2 linked regions of the Homo sapiens genome follow. Each later gene encodes a partner of the first gene's protein in a complex. Each region holds a gene or a part of one and is shown in the gene's direction. Other genes may lie near its edges.

Region 1 (3,500 bases):
TTTGTTTCTATCTTGTGTCAGCAATTAGAAAACTCTAGTGCCCCAAGTCCTGGGAGAAGAAATTTCATTAATTGGGCCTAAGCCTACCTGTTTTGCAGACCCCATGGGCCTAGTGATGGTCTGGGATGCCTGGCTCTAGGCCCTTCATGAATCAGACTACAGCCATCCCCCCCAACTCCCTGCCTCCACTTCCCAAAATCAAAACACCCCCTGACAGCACAGCAGCCCCTGACCCTGAACCCAGATCACGTTACTGGCTCTAGATAAAGTAGCAGCAAGAGAGGTGCATTTATTAATTTTTTCTAGCAGATATCTATGGAGTATGCAGTATGTGCCAGGCATTGTGCTAGGCTGGGGATAGAATGGTGAGTTCAACCCAGTCTCTGCCTGCAAGGAGCTCATAGATTAGTTGAAAAGAAGAGGCCTCCTCAGTGTGGTGAGTACTAAGTTAGGAGAGATGGTGAGGGCACCCACAAGAAGCTTTGCTCAAGCAGCCCTGGAGGGATGAGGAGGGTTCCTGAAGAAAGGGCATGTACATGGAGGTGGGGAAATTGCATGGATGTGGGGCAGAAGGCAGGGATAGGGGAGGGCATTCCAGGTAGAGGGCTAGCTATGCAAGGCTGGAGGCAAGAGAAAGCAGGAGGAAGCCCCATGGTTGGGCAGTGCCAGGGAGATGAACCTGGGGGATGAGGCAAGGACAAGCTCCTGAAGGGCCTCAGAAGCAGGTGAGCGAAAGAACTCAGGACTTTACCCCAAAAGCCGTGATGTGCAATGAAGCATCTCAATTGCTGGAGGAAGCACTAGGATGTTCAGGCAGGCCCAGGCTCAGTCCTAGTTCAGGATTTGGAGGCACAGAAAGAAAGGTAAGACTCAGCCCCTAACTTCAGGAAACTCACTGATGGGCAGATACCATGCACTGTGTTGGGAAACAACCAAGCTGTGCATGATGCATGCCCATGGCACACGAATGCTAAGATTTGAAGGCATGATGGGAGCTATCATTTATTGAGTGCACTCTGTATGCCAGGTTCTGCAGAAGGAACCTAATATCACATCTCACTCAGTCCTCAAGGAAACCTATAGTGTGCCTGTTACCACCCCCGTGTGACAGATGGAAAGACCACGGCTTAAAGAGGTTAACTTCACAGCGTCAATAACCAGGAAAGGATGGCACCAGAATGAGCTCAGCCGGTGATCTTCCTCCTACTCTATTCAGCCTTCCCTAAGTGTGGGCCAAAGGTTGTAGAAAAGGCTTCACGGATTAGGAAGGGACTGGCGAGTTAGAATGTTGTTCCCTGTGTCCCACTGTCATCTCTCAGGCTCTGCAGTGGGGGCCAGGAGCCTGACATTTAGGCATTAGGGGAGGCAGGGATGACTGAGGATCAGGATAAACAAGTGTCTCTGAGAGCCTGCCCCTCAGAATCTTTAAGTCGAGTCCAGTGCCTGCTCTGTGCGGGAGGTAGCAGCTTTTCAAAGAATAAAATCAGCGAGTAAAGAATATAATCTGCAGTTCTTTGCAAATTTGACGATGCTGTGCTGCCTACATACCATTAATAGGGGATGGGTTTTCCCAGAGATGTTTGCTTTGGAAAACTCCCAAGCCTCTACTGTTAACAGTTAGAGATTGCACATAGTGGGGATGGTTATTTGAATTAGAAATGGGTAACTCACATGCACCTGAAATGTCTCCAAGTAAAGTAGGGTAGGGGCCAAGTTGTATAAGGAGATGGGTGAGCCAAGTCTGTAACGATCATGAAGAATGGCATACTCTCTCAAATGCCACAGATGATTCTGGAACCTCAAGAATCTCAGAGCTGAGCTAAATGGCTCTCCAAGATAGCCCACCATGGAGCTAAGGTCCTCTGGAATGACACCACTAGCAGTATTGACTGAGCCTGGTTCCCTGATTCACAACAGCAAGTCGTGAAATTCAGACATCCTGTAGGATCTAGCTTTACCACTATGCTCAGTTGACCTCAAGAAATGAAACCAGCTTCCATGATTAACAGACACTAATGACCAACAGGTGAAACACAATCAGGTAAATGGGGAGAGCCAGTGCCAGAGGGCTTACAGATTTTCTGAAGTTCTTCATACACAGGTTCCCCTCATTAGCAGCCATCTGGGAGGGAGCTGGGGATGATTCTGAAACCTGGAGAATCCCGGTCACTATATCATACATTAGTTGAAAAGAGGGAGCCTCCTCAGTGTGGTGAGTGCCAAGTTAGGAGAGATGGTGAAGGCATCTCCTGCCTACACGCCTTGTACAGCCAGCCCTCTGCCTGGATTATACCGGTCTACCACATACCTGGGCAAGGCTCGTCCTTAGTGACGTTACAAATGGAATATTCTTCTTGCCCTATTCCTTGACTCTCTTTTTCTCCTTACTGCCACCCCTACTACTCCATTATCCCCTTCGGCTCCAGCTCCCCCGGCGTGGATGCTCCTGGCTTGCCTTCTGGGATGATACCCAGGGCTTCCCTAATTGTTGCCACAGCCTACCCAGCCCGCTCCTCCCTCTGGACTGACTCACTTCGCCAGGCACAGAGGGCCCATAGCCTGCAATCCTCCCCAGTCAGTGAATCCCTCCCCCTTCCACAGAGATCTTCAGAAGAGGTGTCGCCACACCCTTTGCCCAGGCGCCACCCTCCCGCGTCAGTGTGCGTCACCGTGGGGATGGTCTTTGTTGTTTCCCTCTCAAGCAGGGCCCTCCTTTTCCTCTTGTTCTGTACACACTGGAGAGGGAGAACAGATGGTCCTCCTGCCGGGGGCCAGCCCTCCTGGCAGAGGTGACCAAACCACCCGGCTTTCCCATCTCAGGGGCATCATGGACACCCCTCAGCTATAGGTTCTGTTTCTGGGGATCCCTTGGGTTTTCTGTGTGTCCCCCCCTTCCCCCTTCCAAGGTCTCTGAGACCTGCTGACCTATGCAGCTCAAGCCCAGAGAGAAGACACCAGGCAGGACTGGTGGTGCTAAAAGATGGTAGAAATCAGTTTGTCCCTCCTCCGTGCTGTTTGTGATTTTGATTTCAACCTGGGACGAGTTGAAAACAGTCCCCCGCGCAGCTCACCCGGCCCACGTTACCCACTATCTTCCCGGACTCACAGCTGTCTCCACCCATGCTTGCCTACTGGCAGGCCTTTCCGGCTTTATTTTGCCTAGTGGTGTTACCAAAATGTCTCCTGGTTGAACTTGACTCTTGTTATATCTTCCAATTTCTCCCGTGTCCAGATTTCCAGACCTTACCCACTGTGGAAGGCATCACACTGAAGCCCAGACATGAGTTCTGGGTCTGCTCTTACCCAGTCCAGTGACCCTGGGAAAGTCAACAAACCTCTCTGAGCCAGTTTCCTCATCTGCAGGATCAGGATGTTACCAGCCTGTTCTGAGGATCAAATGAGCGAATAAATGCAAAGATTCTTTGTAAACTGTAAACCAACATTCTCCAAACTGCATTCTGCAGACCCTGCTCTCAGGAGAGGTGTTCATAAACTATTTA
Region 2 (3,500 bases), on another chromosome or scaffold:
AACAGTCTTTCACAGGCAGTTAGGTTTCAGGTTTAAAAAACTCATTTACCACAGGTATAATTTTGAGTCTGTTTATTTTGATGGGAAAAATTTTAAATACTCCTTTTTTCCCCCCTGCAGAACATCCAGTCATGGATAAAAATGAGCTGGTTCAGAAGGCCAAACTGGCCGAGCAGGCTGAGCGATATGATGACATGGCAGCCTGCATGAAGTCTGTAACTGAGCAAGGAGCTGAATTATCCAATGAGGAGAGGAATCTTCTCTCAGTTGCTTATAAAAATGTTGTAGGAGCCCGTAGGTCATCTTGGAGGGTCGTCTCAAGTATTGAACAAAAGACGGAAGGTGCTGAGAAAAAACAGCAGATGGCTCGAGAATACAGAGAGAAAATTGAGACGGAGCTAAGAGATATCTGCAATGATGTACTGGTGAGAATCAATTCAGTCTGGCTTCATTATACTGTAGGGTCCCTATGAGTATCAGTTACATTACTCTTAACTTTTTGTTTGGTTTTTCTTTTCCTTCTAAACATTGTGTGTTCCAAATTTAAAAGTCTTCATGGTGTCATGACTAAAAAGATGTTAAGACAATTATAGATACGTGTATGTAAAATAATTGCAACAATGATTATGAAACAGTTCAGTTTTGTTAAAAATAACAGACTTTAGTATTGTATTTTATATTAATTGAAAATATAAACTAATTGTGTTACTGTTTTACTTATGGTTAGAATATTTGTAGTAGCTCTATAGCTGGTTATCTTAAATGTACATCTGTGGATAAAGGAATTTTACATACTTTAGGTAAGAGAGATGTAATAGGATACTCATTGTAGAAATAGTACTCTTCTCAGGATTAGCCGCTATAATGTTAATGTAATGAGTCAACCATGCAGAAAACTCTGGCGTCACAACTATGAAACCTCTTCCTGCATTGAATTCTTGAAGGTAAATTTTGAACACTCACAACCATGATGAAAGGTTATGAACAACTCAAGCTTGATTTTCCAGTTTGAATCGAGTATTTTAAGTATTCAGTACTTACTGTGTTGAAGCACTGCGCTTAAAAGAATTAAACTACATTTTGGTTAATTTTAATCTGTCATATAAAGTAGGGCTTTTTGATCAAGAATAGTTTAAATTTGAGGATAAACCAGTAGAGAATCCAACCAAGCTGGCAGTTTTTGGAATAATATTTAAAGTGGTTTTACTAAATGGTTACACTTAACCAGTATGGAAGGGCTCTGATATACAAAGAGGGGCAGCATCTCGATTTTTCTGGACAGATTACTGAATCTGGAACTCAGTATGGAAATCCAGGTTTGTTACTTACTATATGAACCTTGTTTATGGAAGAAGTGCTATAATGAGCAATAGGATAATGTCTGATGTGGTTGTGGGTTTGGGGTTTTTGTTAAAGTTGTGATGATACTATCATTTCTTTACATTTGTATTTACTAATGGAATAGCATCAGTTCCTAAACTGTAATTTTCTCAAATGATACTTACTTGACACTGTCTTTTTAAAGAATAGTGATTTTTTAAACATGCTTATTTGGGTTCACAGCCACAAACTCAATGAGGCATCTGTCTTGGGGCATTTTTTTGTTCTTTGCTTATTGAAACCTTTAGAATGATAGCTACTATTTGTATCTAAGTTGAAAAAAGGAATATCTTGCTTTTATTGGGGCCAAGTGACAAATGTCTGTTTTGTGATTTTGCTAAGGTAATAAGAATATTTAAATTTTGTTTTTTGTTTTTTTTTTTTTTTGAGACGGAGTCTTGCTCTGTTGCCCAGGCTGGAGTGCAGTGGCGCGATCTCGGCTCACTGCAAGCTCCGCCTCCCGGGTTCACGCCATTCTCCTGCCTCAGCCTCCCGAATAGCTGAGACTACAGGCGCCTGCCACTGCGCCCGGCTAATTTTTTTGTATTTTTAGTAGAGACGGGGTTTCACCATGTTAGCCAGGATGGTCTCGATCTCCTGACCTCGTGATCCGCCCTCCTCAGCCTCCCAAAGTGCTGGGATTACAGGCTTGAGCCACCGCGCCCGGCCAAATATTTAAATTTTGAAAATGTGATTTTTTTTTTCTATAATAAAAAATGTATTGGGTTTTTTTGTTTTTTTTGTTTTTTTTTTTTGCTCACCTTACTAACTAATATCTGTGTATGTGTAATTCAGTTTTGTTCAGTCTGGAGTGTTTTTCCCAATTATTACACCTGATCGAAAAGTTTTTATTTTGGCTTCAAAGGGTGTGTTACACATTAACATTTCCCTTAAGACAAAAGTCAATTTTAGGAATAAAAAGGAATGTAACATTTACCTTTTACTAACACGCTTATTTGCAATACCAGGTAGGTATGTGCATGTTTTCCATATACAAAGTATAAAAGTTCCTGTCATTGTGAGTCTTTTCCAAGGAAAAGACTTGTAGCAGGTTTGTTTTTTGTGTATGTTTGTTTGTTTGTTTGTTTTGAGACTGAGTTTTGCTCTTGTCACCCAGGCTGGAGTGCAATGGCACCATCTCAGCTCACTGCAACTTCCGCCTCCCGTGTTCAAGCAATTCTTCTGCCTTGACCTCCCGAGTAGCTGGGATTACTGGGCGTGCACCAGCACGCCCAGCTAATTTTTGTACTTTTAGTAAAGATGGGGTTTCACCTTGTCGGCCAGGCTGGTGACCAGGTCACGTCTAACTCTTGACCTCAGGTGATCCACTCGCCTTGGCCTCCCAAAGTGCTGGGATTACAGGAGTGAGCCACCACGTCCAGCCCAACTTGTAGCAGTTTTGACTATGCTTCCCTTTAGTTTCCTTATGAAGAAACTTTGTTTGCATAGAACCAGTAGATGAGGATAACAAGATAATCTCTTCATATAAATAGTTTCTTCTTGTTATGATTATTAAGGAAGTTCACTCTGGTCCCTACCCACATCGTTACCCTCCAGAATAGCACTGGCTTCCCAAAAAGTTTTAATGGTATTTACACTTTGAAAGTTTGGATAAATGAGAGTTTAATTTCTTTACTATACAAATGGCTTTGAAGAGAATTCTAAACAAGCTTTTGCTTCCAGCCTTGGTCTTTTCAGGAGTAAGACTTAGTGATCTTTGCATACTCAACGTGTAATAGATGCTCAAATATTTGTTAAACAAGCAGAAAGGCTTCTTTAGAGAAAGAGCATAGAATTAGGTCAGCAGCACTGCAAAATTTCCCTAGCTTTTTCTTTTTCTGCTTGGGAAAATTTGATATTTACCGATAATAGGCTTCTTTTTCCTACCATCTTTTTCAAATAGGTCACATCGACTCTGGAAACATATTGCATAAAATTCCTTCTGCCCTTTCTGTGAGATGGAAGAATAAAATGTAGCAGAACTGATATTTCTACTAGAAAAAGTTATTGAATCATTATTAATGATTAGTAAAAATATTTTAAATTATATTTTTAAGATCTTACATGATAAAAAATCAATTATAATTTTTTATTACTCCAGCCTTTTCTGGGCTTTGATA

What was found. Proteins that work in one complex are often made in the same cells at the same time.
Region 2: the proteins of PRKCE (region 1) and YWHAZ are in contact, whole or in part, in a crystal structure (PDB 2WH0), measured with the Homo sapiens proteins. Residues at the interface, in NP_005391.1 of Homo sapiens: Lys365, Ala366, Leu367, Ser368, Phe369, Asp370, Asn371, Arg372; in NP_001129171.1 of Homo sapiens: Asn42, Ser45, Val46, Lys49, Arg56, Lys120, Arg127, Tyr128, Gly169, Leu172, Asn173, Val176, Glu180, Leu216, Leu220, Asp223, Asn224, Leu227, Trp228.

The regions. Positions count from the first base shown.
Region 1 is NC_000002.12:46,179,675-46,183,174, forward strand, and holds part of PRKCE (protein kinase C epsilon type), read left to right. Parts: intron 1-3,500.
Region 2 is NC_000008.11:100,945,521-100,949,020, reverse strand, and holds part of YWHAZ (14-3-3 protein zeta/delta), read left to right. Parts: intron 1-120; 5' UTR 121-131; coding exon 132-425; intron 426-3,500.